2 linked regions of the Homo sapiens genome follow. The protein of the gene in region 1 interacts with the protein of each later gene in a pairwise test. Each region holds a gene or a part of one and is shown in the gene's direction. Other genes may lie near its edges. The genes, in order: TFF2 and FCRL4.

What was found.
Region 2: the proteins of TFF2 (region 1) and FCRL4 interact in binary tests that used the Homo sapiens proteins (3 or more experiments, as listed by UniProt).

Annotation. Positions count from the first base shown.
Region 1 is NC_000021.9:42,347,900-42,355,149, reverse strand, and holds the start of TFF2 (trefoil factor 2 precursor), read left to right. Parts: upstream 1-4,155; 5' UTR 4,156-4,192; coding exon 4,193-4,271; intron 4,272-5,119; coding exon 5,120-5,269; intron 5,270-7,250. UniProt on the Homo sapiens protein: Inhibits gastrointestinal motility and gastric acid secretion. Could function as a structural component of gastric mucus, possibly by stabilizing glycoproteins in the mucus gel through interactions with carbohydrate side chains.
Region 2 is NC_000001.11:157,595,070-157,603,226, reverse strand, and holds the start of FCRL4 (Fc receptor-like protein 4 precursor), read left to right. Parts: upstream 1-5,141; 5' UTR 5,142-5,282; coding exon 5,283-5,313; intron 5,314-6,878; coding exon 6,879-6,899; intron 6,900-8,157. UniProt on the Homo sapiens protein: May function as an inhibitor of the B-cell receptor signaling. May function in the B-cell-mediated immune response.

The DNA of each region.
Region 1 (7,250 bases):
TTATGCTCTAGTTCGCATAGTTTATCTTGCACTGGCTTCACTTCAAGTAAACTGACCATTCCTCTGCAGCATCTAATAGTATCTAATCAAAAACCCATACAGTGTATTTTTCATTTCAGATGTTGTATTTTTTATTTCTAAAATTTGTACCTGGTTAATTTTTAGTTTCCATTTATCTACTGAGATTCCTTTTTGTTCCTTTATTATATTATGTTTTTCTTTCAATCTTTGAACATTTTATGCCATGTCTAAGTCTGTTTTTGTTCACTGATTTTTCTAATGATTATGGGCCATATTTCCTAGTTCTCTCCACACATCTAGTAACTTCTGATTTTCTGTTAGACGTTAGGGATGTTATGTTGTGTATTTAGGTTTTGCTGTCTTCATTAGTAAAGTGTTGAATGCTTTGCTCTCTCAGGTAGTGTTATCGGTTGAATTATTTCCCCCAAATTCATATATGAAGCCTTAAATTCCATTACCTAAGAATGTGACTACATTTGGAGACAGTGTCTTAAAAGGGGTAATCAGGTTAAAATGAGGCTCTTAGGGTGGGCCCTGGTTCAATTTGACTGGTGTCCTTATAAGAAAAGAGTCGCCAGAGATGTGCGTGCACAGAGGAAAGACCATGTGAGATATGGGGAAAAAAAGCCATCTGCAAGCAGAAAGAGGCCTCAGTAGAAACCAGATGTGCTGACACCCTATCTTGGACTTCTGGGCACCAGAATTGTGAGAAAGTACACTTCTGTTGGTTAAGCTACACAATGTGTAGTATTTTGTTACAGCAACCTGAGTGAACTAATACAAGCAGTTAATTTACTTGCAGGTTAACTTGATTCCTGCAAGACTTGTTTTAAAGTTTTGTTCGAATGGATTTTGAGTAGCTTTCCTCTAGAAAGATCAGCCTTCTTTTTACGGCATGGCCTTTATTGAATGCTTGAAGTGGTCAACACCTCTGGCTGCTCTGAGCTCAAATGCTTTCCAGCCCCACGAACCCTACACTAGTTGTTCAGTTTAGCCTCCCCAGTGATTGTTCTGTCCCCAGGGGCTACTTAGCCTGGCCTTGTGGGCACGAACAGCATAGTATTTGATGAAAAGCTCAAAGGACACACTTTTATATTTCTGGAGCTTCCTTCTCTTACCTTGATAACCCGCCTGCCTCAGAAGCTTCCAATTCTGACCTCTGTCTCCTCAGCCCGATGGGACTTCAGTGCTATTTGGGTTCCCCTCCCTGTGCTGTAGTCTGGAGAGCGTCTCCAGGAAACCAAGGCAGCCATGGGACTCCCCCTATTGTTTCCCTTCTCTCAGGGATCGCTGTCTGGCACTGCCTGCTGCTCAGCATCTGCAGACTGTTACTTATGTAGTTTTAGAGTTACTCATGGTGGGAGGCTAGCCTGGTACCAGTGACTCCATAGTCAAAAGCGGAAGTCCACATGGGTGATAGCTGAGGTGGTTCCCATTTGTTGACTTTCTATGTGAACTGATGGAAAGTATCATCCCCAAAGTGTGCAAAATGGAAGTGAGCAGGGGTGGAGAAGGATAAACAGAAAGAGGAGGGCGCCAGCCCTGAGTGCCTGGATGGCGCTGAGATCATGCGTTGAGAGTGGCAACAATTCAAGGTAGGTGTCGGCCATGCTAGGCAGATGGCATAGGCACAGAGACAGTGGGAAACAGCAGTGAGGAAGACGGTGGGTGAAGTGAGCACTGTGGAAATCAGGCTGGAGAAGCAGGAAGGAAGGATAGACAGGAGGGGGCTCACAGGGGAATAGGGGATTGGAGGGCTTTAGGATTCAGACAAAGGGAGAATGTTAGGAGCTTAGGACATCCTGGGCAGAAAGGACATTTGCATACCCTCTTTCAGAGGTGGAGCTCAAGTTCTGAGTGTGGTCATGGGAGGGTGGCAGAAGTGGCAGAAGTGGAGTGGAGATGGAAGTTCCTAGAGATGAGGAAAAATAAAATCTGAGCGACTGTGAATTTTGATGAAACATCGACCGCCATGTTGAAGATGGCTGGGATGTGGCCAAGTCTTAGCATGACAAGGAACACAGTGAACTCAGTGCTGAAATTCTTAACGAAAGGGACAGGCTGCACAAAGGTCGGCAGATGACAGCAGGGCAGGGACTCCGGACATGGCGCCCTTCCCAGCCTGCATCTCCAAGGAGGATGGTTTTTGCATGAGGGTGAAGACTTGGGGCTCAAAGTCAATGTCCAGCCCCCAGTCTGAGCCCATGTGATGGGGACGTGGCCACCAAGTACAGTTGTGGAGGTTGTGAACAGCTCCACTTTCAACTAGCGATGCCACTCTATTGCAGACGTCCCATCTCGTGTAATGGTTTCCCAACTCTGTGGGCACTCAGTGTCCCTGCGTGGGGGCCTGAGCAGGATTCCAGGGAAGCATGCCTATGACAACACAGGCTTCCGCCAGGGCCAGGAGAGTGAGAGAGGCTGAGAAGTGGTCTCTTTTGCATGGGTCAGGTGGTCGCAGCAGGAATCCTGAAGGGGCTGCAGTGAGCGGTGGGAAGTCGAGTTGATGGGGAGGAAGCAGAGAGGAGAGGTGGGTGGGAATATGAGAGAAAACAATGACTCAGTCACTTATATCATGATGGTGACTAAAGTGACAGGGATGTAGAACAAGGAAACTGACCTTGCCAGAGTTTTCATGGATCGAGTCCCTGTGGTTGCCCAGTGGTGAACAGTCAGCAGAGAGCCTGGAGGTACTTGACCCGGACCCAGAGGAGCCCTGGAGGATGGAGCCTGGAGGACGGGGGCCTGGAGAATGAGGGTCTGGAGGACGAGGGTCTGGAGGAACAGGGGCCTGGAGGACGAGGGTCTGGAGGAAGAGGGCCTGGAGGACAGGGGCCTGAAAGATGGGGGCCTGGAGGATGAGGGTCTGGAGGATGAGGGTCTGGAGGAGCAGGGGCCTGGAGGATGAGGGCCTGGAGGACAAGAGCCTGGAGGACAGGGGCCTGAAAGATGGGGGCCTGGAGGATGGGGCCTGGAGGATGGGGGCCTGGAGGACGGGGGCCTGGAGGATGATGGCCTGAAGGATGAAACCTGGAGGATGGAGCCTGGAGGATGGAGCCTGGAGGATGAGGGCCTAGAGGATGGGGGCCTGGAGGACAGGGGCCTAGAGGATGGAGCCCTGGAGAATGGGGGCCTGGAGGATGGAGCCTGGGGGACGAGGGCCTGGAGGATGGGGGCCTGGAGTATGGGGCCTGCTCTCCAGACCCTGAGGACAGCCCCGTGGTGGACCAAGGATTTTGGGTTTCCTGCGTCTCTGGGCCCCTGACTGCTCAACCATCAGAAACAGACTGGCAACCCCCTGTCATTTCCCTGGCGTGGGGAACTTCGGGTCCCCTCTGTCCTTCCCACCACACTTTTCCCTCTTTCTTTCCGGGTGTCTACTCTCTGGCTTCTGTCTTCTCTGTCAGGTCCACAGAATCCTTCTCCAGCACATCCTACCCCAGGAAGGCCATGGGCTGGGTCCCAGGTGCCATCTTTCAGAAGATGTAGAGCATTCCCATGGAACAAAAATAACCCATTTCAGGGGTTGGCTGAAAATGAACTTATTAAAACCTGCCTGTCACAGGCTACTCCGCTGACCCTGTCAGCCTCATCTCCATGGAGAGCAGCCCCTCCTGCTGAAGATGGGACAAAGGGCATCGTGCTGCGGTTGGGGAGGCTCTAACCACAGCCCTGGGAGCAGTCTCTTACCTCCTCTGAGATGCTTCCCTTCCTCAGGGAGGGGACTTTTCCATGCTATCTGCTGGCCTGTACATTTTCCCCAGTAAACTTGGCCCTAATATTTTCTAAATTCCTGTGGTCCCTGCCCACTCTATCAATAGAAATGCATAGCTTATCCCTTCCTGGGTGTGACCCTGTGTGTGCCCAGCCCCAGACCTGCACGTGGCCGGTTTTCCACGCTGGCAGCCTGGCATGACCCAACTCTCTGTCCAGGGCAGGAAGAGGTATCACCGAGCAGGGAGAGAGTCACCCTGGCCCGGAAGCCTCGCCTGCACAGGGCACAGCTGCCTCTTGCCTCCTCTTCGCCTCCACGGTGGAAGGGCTGGGGCCACGGGGCAGAGAAGAAAGGTTATCTCTGCTTGTTGGACAAACAGAGGGGAGATTATAAAACATACCCGGCAGTGGACACCATGCATTCTGCAAGCCACCCTGGGGTGCAGCTGAGCTAGACATGGGACGGCGAGACGCCCAGCTCCTGGCAGCGCTCCTCGTCCTGGGGCTATGTGCCCTGGCGGGGAGTGAGAAACCCTGTAAGTGAAGGAGAGGGTCTTTTTATGTGCTTTCTTTATTTCTCTTAAAGAAAAAAAAAAAGCACAACCATAAATTAACTTGAGAGGGGGAATGGCTATAAAGGCATCTGGCAATGTGTGTTGTTCACATGGGATTTGCCACTGCTCAGGAGGGTGGCTCCAAGAAGGGCCTCCCTCCTAGGGAAAGGCTGAGTGACGGCAGGTGTCAGCGGGCCCCGTGTCGGGCCAGGAGGGCATTCCCACCAAGGGTCCTTGGAGTCCCAGAGCACTCACCTCTCGCCTGGATCTTGGCCTTGGGTCCATCTGTTCACCCTCCTCTAGGAGGGTTTTGTTTTTGTTTTTTTCCGAGACAGGATCTGGCTTTGCCGCCCAGGCAGGAGTGCAGTGGTGTGATCTTGGCTCACTGCAACCTCTGCCTCCCAGGCTCAAGTGATCCTCCCACCTCAGCCGCCTGAGTAGCTGAAACCACAGTTGTGGACCATCATGCCCGGCCAATTTTTTTTTTTGTATTGTTTGTAGAGATGGGGTTTCGACATGTTGCCCAGGATGGTCTTGAACTCCTGAGCTCAAGCAATCTGCCCGCCTCGGCTTCCTAAAGTGCTGGGATTATAGGTATGAGCCACCATGCCTGGCTTTTTTTTTTTTTTCCTTTTAAACTAATATAACAATTTCAGCAAAGCCCTATCGGCTTCTCAGGAGGAAACCGCATTGCTTAAATATGGGCAAGATAAGACTTTGTGTTTCTCTATGTGGCAACAAGACAGTAGAGGCATCCCCTAGAACCTCTGAGAGAAGGAGCAGTGTGGTCTGGGGTACCAGGGTGGGGCCGACTGAGGGTCTTTCCACAGCCCCCTGCCAGTGCTCCAGGCTGAGCCCCCATAACAGGACGAACTGCGGCTTCCCTGGAATCACCAGTGACCAGTGTTTTGACAATGGATGCTGTTTCGACTCCAGTGTCACTGGGGTCCCCTGGTGTTTCCACCCCCTCCCAAAGCAAGGTAATCTTCCAGGGAATCTTCCTGGGCCAGCAGCTGGCAACCCAGGACCCAGCTTCACAGGCGGAGCCCAGAGCAGGGGCCGGAGGAGGCCCAGTTGCTAGTCTAGGGTTAGCCTGGGTGGGTTAGTCTCGAGCTAGCCCCGGTTGGTTAGTCTGGGGCTAGCCCAGGTTGGTTAGTCTAGAGCTAGCCCAGGTTGGTTAGTCTGGGGCTAGCCCAGGTTGGTTAGTCTGGGGCTAGCCCAGGTTGGTTAGTCTAGGGCTAGTGTAGGCTAGTTAGTCTAAGGCTAGCCCAGGTTGGTTAGTTTGGAGCTAGCGCAGGTTGGTTAGTCTGGGGCTAGTAGCCCAGGTTGGTTAGCCTGGAGCTAGCCCAGGTTGGTTAGTCTAGGGCTAGCGTAGGCTGGTTAGTCTGGGGCTAGCCCAGGTTGGTTAGTCTGGAGCTAGCCCAGGTTGGTTAGTCTGGGGCTAGTAGCCCAGGTTGGTTAGTCTGGGGCTAGCCCAGGTTGGTTAGTCTAGGGCTAGTGTAGGCTAGTTAGTCTAGGGCTAGCCCAGGTTAGTTAGTTTGGAGCTAGCACAGGTTGATTAGTCTGGGGCTAGTAGCCTAGGTTGGTTAGTCTGGAGCTAGCCCAAGTTGGTTAGTCTAGGGCTAGCATAGGCTGGTTAGTCTGGGGCTAGTAGCCTAGGTTTGTTAGTCTGGAGCTAGCCCAGGTTGGTTAGTCTAGGGCTAGCGTAGGCTGGTTAGTCTAGGGCTAGCCCAGGTTGGTTAATCGGAGCTAGCCCAGGTTGGTTAGTCTGGAGCTAGCCCAGGTTGGTTAGTCTGAGGCTAGTAGCCCAGGTTGGTTAGTCTGGGGCTAGCCCAGGTTTGTTAGTCTGGAGCTAGCCCAGGTTGTTTAGTCTGGAGCTAGCCCAGGTTGGTTAGTCTGGGACTAGCCTGGACTGCTAGTCTAGAGGTAGCCTAGAGGACTGCTAGTCTAGAGGTAGTCTAGGGCTAGCCCAGGTTGGTTAGTCTGGGGCTAGCCCATGTTGGTTAGTCTTAGACTAGCCTGGACTGCTAGTCTAGAGGTAGCCCAGGTTGTTTAGTCTGGTACTAGCCTGGACTGTTAGTCTAGAGGTAGCCCAGGTTGGTTAGGTTGGTTAGTCTGGGACTAGTCTGGACTGTTAGTCTAGAGGTAGCCCAGGTTGGTTAGTCTGGGACTAGCCTGGACTGTTAGTCTAGAGGTAGCCCAGATTGGTTAGTCTGGGACTAGTCTGGACTGCTAGTCTAGAGGTAGCCCAGGTTGGTTAGCCTGGGGCCAGCCTGGACTGTTAGTCTAGAGGTAACCCAGGTCAGCCAACAGTGAGATGAAAATTTCCCACCTACCCTGTTTCTACACTGTTAGTTCTTTCAACAGACATGTGTGTGTGGAGCCATCAGTTTTACTTTAGTTGAGAAAAAAATATATATATATATAGTAGGTCTCCTCTAGTTTTTGAAGTGTGACTTCTGAAGAAGCTTCCATGGGGAAATGAAGGTATTTAATAGGACAGCAGTAACATAAGGGCTGACAGCCCTCAAATGTTAGGGAAGGAAGTGAAGCCTTCTAGGGTTCTTTGGGAGTGAGTTTTATGTTAGTGCACGGGATCAGGACCCAAGTTGTAACGCCGACGAGTGCTCAAAGGAAGGTTGTGTGTGTGTCGTGCACCTGTGTGCGTGGAACCAGGCACGTCCTCTGGAGAAGGAGGATTCATCCCCAAGATTGTTGCTGGGAGGCTTGCTGGGCCCCGCAGGGAAACCAGGCAGATGGTGGATTGTTCACGAGCGCCCACTGAATGGCAGTGTCTTTGGGAATCAATACCATGTCCAAACGCTTTCCATCTTACCAAGGTGCCCACAAACCTTTTCTCATCTTGGCCCGGGGGACCACCCCATTTACTGAGAACACTGAGTCCCGAGAGGCAAAATGATTTCCCCAAGGCGGGGGACTCCAGAGCTTCTGACTGTGACC
Region 2 (8,157 bases), on another chromosome or scaffold:
TAATTCCAGCACTTTGGGAGGCCGAGGCGGGCGGATCACGAGGTCAGGAGATCGAGATCATCCTGGCTAACACAGGTGAAACCCCGTCTCTACTAAAAATATAAAAAATTAGCTGGACGTAGTGGCGGGCGCCTGTAGTCCCCACTACTCGGGAGGCTGAGGCAGGAGAATGGCGGGAACCCGGGAGGCGGAGCTTACAGTGAGCGGAGGTTGCGCCACTGAGCTCCAGCCTGGGCGACAGAGCTAGACTCTGTCTCAAAAAAAAAAAAGTTATAAATTAATCTAATAAGCTAATAAGATGTGTTTTATTCTCCTACTTTGACAAATATACCTTCATAATGACCTAGAAGTCTGGGTTCAAATATAACATTTTAAGATAATGGGAATTTTATACTAGAACAAGGTATGACAAGGAAAGCAGGCTCTGGTCTCCTGTTTCAAGCTTACAGCTTCCTACTTTTATTCCTGCTCGCAGCTCCATCCCATAGTACAATACATTGGAACGAGCCAGCCCGCACATCCAAGCTTCTGACACATCCCTCAAGCAGCACTGCCTTGGCCAACCCTCAGGAAAAACTGACCAAATATAGCTAAATGTTAATAACTGATAACTCTCAGTGAAGAGCAGGTAAGTATTTATTGTACTATTCTTGCCATTTTTTTGAAAGGTTTAAAATTTTTTGAAATAAAAATATTGGGGAAATGAAAGTTTTCTTGTTAACGTCTCCAAGTAACAAAATGGATTTGCCTTCAGCTACATAGCTTGTAAGTGATGAAGCAAAACCATAGCCAGGCCTTAGAGTTCAAATCTGGTGTCCATTTCACACCCTCTACTACATAACTGTGGATCTGTGAATCTGGAATAGAGGGCACTAACAACCTGCGATTCTGTTCTCACTTTGGACAAGTTTTTGAGCAAAAAGATCTGTATGTTCATGAAGATAGAAGAGTCTCGACTTAGAACAAGAAATCATCTCGGAAACGTCTCTAAAACAAAAGGAGATTATATTTTACCACTGAAGGCTAGAAATATTATTATCTGTAGTCATGGAAAATAAAATGCGGCTTCTAGATGGCACCAGCCTACAAATAAATGTAATTGAGCTTCTTCACTGCCTTTTCTTTGAAGTTCAAAGTTGATTACTCCAAGCGGCTGTTCCTCCATTACTAACAAATGGCTATAGAAATCATTACGTATACAGCCACTGATTTGGGAGAAGAGTCTTTTAATAGCAAGAACAACAAATTTATCTTTCCAGTATTTTTCCCACCCATAAAGCACTGACAAGACCACAGACTCCCTGTCACATAGTTAAAAATGTATGATTCTCCCGTAGTAGTAAAGACCATACTCAGCACTCAGATCTTGGTTTCTAAATATCAGTCTCTACTGAAAGGAATTGGGGCTCCTTGAAGAAGTGGCTGATTCTAGAGTTGGGGCAGGAAAATGTAAGATGAGCCAGGAGCATCTCGTAGTGCCAGACAGTACAGAAATGTTCCAACAAGGAAAATGATGAGAGTTTCTCAAAGGCACAAAGAAGAAGCTGACCTGAAAGAGCTCCCAATCACCAAAGCTGGATCAATTTGAGCAACAAAATATATAAAGCATTATATTGTTACCAAAGTTTAAAGTAAATATACAAATCTATAGTGATATAAATAAATGATTGAATGGATGAATACATGAATAAGTAAATAAGAACAAGGAGACAAATCCCCCTACCTCACCTCTCACCCTGACTGTGGGCTGGACTTGCTCCCAAACGAAAGAATATAGAAAAAGACAAACAGTAATTTTACATCGAAGAAACCTGGCAAACACTACCTTAACCAAGTGATCACAATTTACATTACCAGTGATAAGTCATGTTGAGATTCCATACCCCCAATGTGATGAGAAGGACACTCTACCGCTGTAGTATTCTTTGTGAAAACTCATAACCCCAGTTTAATTATGACCAAAACGTCAGACAAACCCAGATTGAAAGACGCCGCAAACTACCTAGCCAGTACTCCTCAAAACTGTCAAGGTCATGAAAAACAAGGAAACACTGAGAAACTCACAGATGGAGAAGAGACGTCTGTGAGCAAAGATAGCTAAATGTAATGTAGTATCTTAGAGGGGATACTAGAAGAGGAAAAAGGTGTCAATGGAAAACTGAAACAAGCTGGATAAAGCCTGTAATTAATAGTAATGTAGAGACGGAGCAAAGATAACTAAATGTAATGTAGTATCTTAGAAGGGATACTAGAAGAGGAAAAAGGTATCAATGGAAAAACTGAAAAAAGCTGGATAAAGCCTGTAATTAATAGTAATGTAGAGACGGAGCAAAGATAACTAAATGTAATGTAGTATCTTAGAAGGGATACTAGAAGAGGAAAAAGGTATCAATGGAAAAACTGAAAAAAGCTGGATAAAGCCTGTAATTAATAGTAATGTAGCAATCTTGGTTTCTTAGTTTTGATAAATGCACCCCCATGATGTGAAATGATAACGGTAGGGGAAATTGAAACAGGTGAGGGCTTCCTATATGGGAACTCTTTGTATTATCCTTACTATTTTATATAAATCTAGAATTACCCCAAAATGAAAATTTATTTTTTAAACTGTAAAGGTTTAAATGTTTTTCAAAAAAAAATTAGAAAAGTTTAAAAATTTCAGTTTCTTACATTCTCATTGAAAACAATTATTTTTGTCCTTTGTTAATATAAAATCTAAAAGTTCCTGGTTAGTCAAGCAATTGCTTAATAAATCATGGTATATGTACTTCCTGGCTGATGTTTCAAAGTACTAACCACACTTCTGGCACCAATAACTAAAATATTTCTGTCAGTGACTTAAATACCACAACAAAAATAGTACTTGACTGACGTAAACTTAAACATTTACACAGTAGTTGTAAATAAATATGATTTTTGTGTTTGGACATCTTGTATAACATCATAAATGTGAAATTTTATTTTGCTAATTGAAATCTATTCATTCAGCAAAACTTATGGTAGAAACAAGAAAACAGGCAATATGATTTCAACTTCCCTCAATCCTTAGTCAGTCAATAAATATTGGAGTTCTAAACTCATGCTAAATACTATTTTCCAGTGTTATAAGGAATACAAAAATGTTGGTAGGATATTATGTCAATTATAAAGTGCTTTTTAGTTCATTATACTTGTTACTTCTAGTATTACAGAATAGTTCTCAGCATAGGGACTAAGCTGAGAGTTCTATGTCATTAATGTATTCATACAAACATCAATAACAACATCCACTTCAGCTGGACATTATTTTTATCTCCTTTTTACCAGTGTGAAAGAGGCTAAGTACTTGACCAGAGTCACCCAACTAGCAAGAGGTGAAGTCAAGATTTCATCCAGATGTGTGGGATTCTGCAGATCAGGTTCTTGACTGCCATTTTATACCCTTGCTCCTCCTGGGACAAATGAAGGCAGCTGAAAGATGACAGCACGGTCACACGGCAAGGAGACAAAGGACCCATGTGCCGCCTTGACAGCTCTATGTCTTTATGGTTCCTTGTGTCTATGTCTACTCTGGCCCTTACCACATTGACTTTTTTAAAGTCTTTAAGAGAGATGCACTTTATTCACCTTTTTATTCTTCTAAGGCCATGGACATTGTCTAAAATATAGTTGATGTTCAATACAAACCCTAGTTAGAAAATAAATTATTACAGATATATAGAAAAACATTATATTAGAAAAATACAGACCACTCTTAATCCATCCTATGTCTATTATCTATTCACAGATATCTTGATGTGATGGTGATGGTCACGATAACTGCCTTCCATCTTAGTGCATGCTCATCTCTCAGTCCTAGAATGATATTCTTTCAGCTTGGATGTTACTTCCTCAGGGAAGCCTCTTATGCATCCCCAGAACTGGGTCAGATTTCCCTCTTAGTGGACTCTCAGAAATTACATACAATTCACTTCTATGTAATTTCCTGTTGACTTGCTGTCTTCTCCACCAGAATGAAAGCTTTCCAAGTCTTGATTAACACTGTACTTCCAGCACCTGGCACCATACCTGAAGCACCATGGTGTTTCTTTTTTTTTGCCATTAACATTTTATATATATATATATATATATATATATATATATATATATATATACACATACATATACACAAGATAATAGCATAAAAAAGTTTTAAAGAGTTATACATACCAAAATATTATACGTACCAAAAAACGTCACTACGGATTTTTCCATTTTTTTCTTAATTTTTTTTTTAAGTTCTGGGATACATGAGCAGAGTGTGCAGGTTTGTTATGGGTAGGGAGAGCATTAGGTGTTTCTCAAAACACCAAACAGCATGTTGCCCAGTGTGAAAGAATCCAAATGGCAAAAATCAAAATTTAATAGAATTATTTAAATACCCACTCTGACTTCCTGACGTGAATCGCTTCTCAAGGCTAAAGCCATCATATTTTCAGAACTCTCTAGCCTCTTGTCTTTCAAGGAAATCACAACTTCTTCTCTCTGCCACCAGATACCAGGCATATGTATTTCAATCAATATATATTTGCCAAGACATTCCTGTAGCAAATTTTGGATTCTAGGACATTAAGTAAAAATGTTATGGCCTATTATCTAGGAAGAGCATGATGGGGCTATAATTTACTCCTCAGCTTGCCTTCTACTCAGATCAAAAGTTGTGGTTTCCCCCTGGACTGATGAGTCAGGATATTTTCATATATATCAGACAAGGTGAGAGTTGTCTTGTGATTGAGATGTTTCATCAGGTCTACAGACGGCCTGCTGGAGGTGTTCCAGTAGAGGTATCAGCGGTCAGAGGAGGCCTTTTCTGTGTTGAATGAGAAATTCTTCATCTCTGGGGATATTCAGGGACATCCTTAGATTATGTGGATTTCAATAGGCCTGCAATCTCACCTCATCTCTAGTAGCAGAGAGAATAGGTTGTGATTTCCTTGAAAGACAGAGCCTAGAGAGTTCTGAAACTAGAGTAGCTTTAGCCTTGAGAAGTGATTCACCCCAGGATGTCACAGCAGTACTTAATTCTATTAAATTTTGATTTTTGTGGTCTGGATTCTCTCACACTGGTCCACATTGCTGTTTGGTGTTTTCAGAAAGATTCCTCTACTTCCCCCTTTCACTTCATTATCTCAATCAGCTTTATGCAGAGAAGAAGCTTACTGAGCTCACTGCTGGTGCTGGTGTAGGCAAGTGCTGCTTTGGCAATCTGGGCTGACCTGGCTTGTCTCCTCAGAACTCCTTCTCCAATCCTGGAGCAGGCTTCCATGCTGCTGTGGGCGTCCTTGCTGGCCTTTGGTAAGTGATGGGGAGGAGACCTTTGCTTGCTGCAAAGCTGAGCCTCACCATGAGCAAAAGCCCTCTTTTCTGCTGCTGCAATCATGGATTTTTACTCCCATTTTAGAACAGCAGAAAATGAACAAAAAGGAAAGATAATGATTTACTGGTAGAAGGGGAAAATGATAATAATTGATTTCCAAAGATGTATTTCTCATCTATTTTTGCTATGAATTGCCTATGGAAAATCATTTTACCCCCAAATGGACTTATTTTGTTTATGCAAAAAGAAACCTATGGCTAGGTTCAGTCCCTACGTCACAGAGCATGAGGACCCAGAGGAAAAGATGGACTGAGTTATTTGTGAAGGATAAAGTCCTGATTGTGAACTCAGGTAGAAAGGATCACCTGCTGAGAATAGTTATTTCCTTCTCTGTATTCTAAGTTCAAACCTGTTCTGATGTTTGCAAAGAGCATGAGAAGAGAAGAGATAAGATGATTTCCCTTTGATTTTTTTCTTCCTGCTTTTGTACCACTTGTCAGTGTTTGTCCAAATGAGGCACGGATTTCCTAGTTGCTCAAACTAGGGAATTAAAGAACAGTCAGTCTTTTGTTCATTAAATATTTATTAAGCGTATTTGTCTAGTTCCCACCTGATCCCCAGACCCCAACTAAGGGAAGACCTATTAGTGTGATTGGCACATGATAGGAACTAAGGAGTGAGTGGATGGGTATACTTGGCATGCCACACTGCTGGGCACCACAGAGGATGCAGAGACCTGAAGGACACAGATTCTGCCCTCAAGAGGTGACATTCTCAATAGAACCTCAACGTACACATGCAAGAACATCTGACTCGACAATATGAGAAAAATATTACACAAATAGTTACAGGATAATGTGTGAGGATGTCAGTTAATTTGTGCTAAGCCCTGGCTACATCCCACTTTTCTAAGGGCACCCCATGTATAAATGTATCCAATTCTCTAACATTTGATCAGGTGGAACTTTTATAACTCCCATTTACAAATGAGGAAATGAAGGCACAAAGATGTTGGTCTTGTCCCTGAGGTTTATGCAGCTAGTACAGTGGCAGAGTCAGGATTCGAACCCATAATCTAACTTTGGAAACTAGGCTTTTAACTACTACCCTCTACTGTCTGTCTCATTTTGAGTTCCAAATTAGCTATGATAATAAGTGTTCTGAGTCAAGAGAAGAGGAATCAGCAGCAGCCCCATACTAAAAAATTAATGACAGCAGCCATTAATTGAAACCTTACTGATCTAACTCATTACAGTATTACTATGAGGTCGCTTTCATGAGCCTCATTTTTCAAATGAGAAAACTGAGACTTGAAAGTTCATGTGGTTTGCCCTGGGTCATACAGCTAAAATTCAAACCAGACTGTCTGAGTCCACAGCCTGAGCGTCTGGCCACTGTGTTTCCCCGCTTCCCTGGGATGGATGGAATGGAACGTGTTTCTCTTCCTCTTGGTTGGAAGTAGCATATGAGTGTATGGGCTCTCAGGGTGAATAGTTCGGGACTCTTCGCCTACGCTGATGGCTGGCTCTTTACTCTCTTTCAGCTCCAGTCTGTGGACAATCTGGTAAGTCCTTATTTTCTTTGCTCCTTTATGTCTCTAGATACCCTAATAACTATATTTTATCTCAAATACTTACAAGAGTCCCTGTTGTCCATTTCATCCTTTTCCTGAGTGCTGCAGGGATGTAGAGACATCAGCTCGTGTGGTGACTCTGACCCTAAGAACCAGGCTATTTGGGGGTGACTCTCTTAAACCAAAACTGCCATTGTGCTGGCTAAACATGGCAGGGCCTGGGATATGTGTCACAGCGTCCACAGGAAGAGGAGCTGTCACCCCGCCTGATGTGGGATTCTAGCCAAGCCTGATGGAATGCATAGCATCCCAAGAGGAAAAGGGTAGAAATAAGCCAATACTTCAGAGGGGGAGGCTGGGGCTCCAGCAGCTTTTCCACTAACCATGTGTAACAAATTTATCCCCAACTTCTGCATCCCATGGAGACACACTTCTCTGTTAATAGCTCAAATTATGATGACTCTGAGTCTCCATCTATCCTACTGGTCAGCAAAAAGTCCCATCCTCTATAGGCAGCTGCCTCACAGGTGTTTTGGCCATTCCTATAGAGCACCCTAGGAGCTGCTGGAGCCAGCAAGGGCCTTGGCCCCCTTGAGGTGCACTGTCTCTTGCAGCTCCTAACTCTGCTGTTCTTCCCCTCCTCGGTGCCTTGGACACAGACTATTTCCCACACACCCTTCCTGAGACAAGATTATAACTTGGCAGACTTTGCTAATGGTTCTAGAATGGGGAAATGAAATACAAAAAGTGCCTTGAATTAACTGCAGCTAGGGATGTGGTTAACCTCAGAGCCCATCAACTCAGTCTCAAACACACGAAGGCCATGAAAAGTTATGTCCCTTCCTGGCCATAGGGCCACCTGCACATAGCAGGGGCAGCTTCCTCAGAGCAAAGAAGAGTCTAGTTGCATACATCAAAGGAAATCAACTCTCCTTCCCTCCAGTAGAAGACCTATTGCCTAAGTCCCAATGGCCCTGCATCCAGGTGCTTCCCAGGAATATAGCTGGTAGGGTTTTCTATTCTCTTCAGCAGAAACACAGCCCCATTCCCACTGATGACATAGAGTATTCTGTCCAAACCTTTAAAGACAGAATTTTCTTTTTAAAAAGTGTCTGCAGAGGCTGGGCACAGTGGCTCATGCCTGTAATCCCAGCACTTCGGGAGGCTGAGGTGGGTGGATCACTTGACGTCAGGAGCTCAAGACCAGCCTGGACAACATGGTGAAACCTCATCTCTACTGAAAATACAA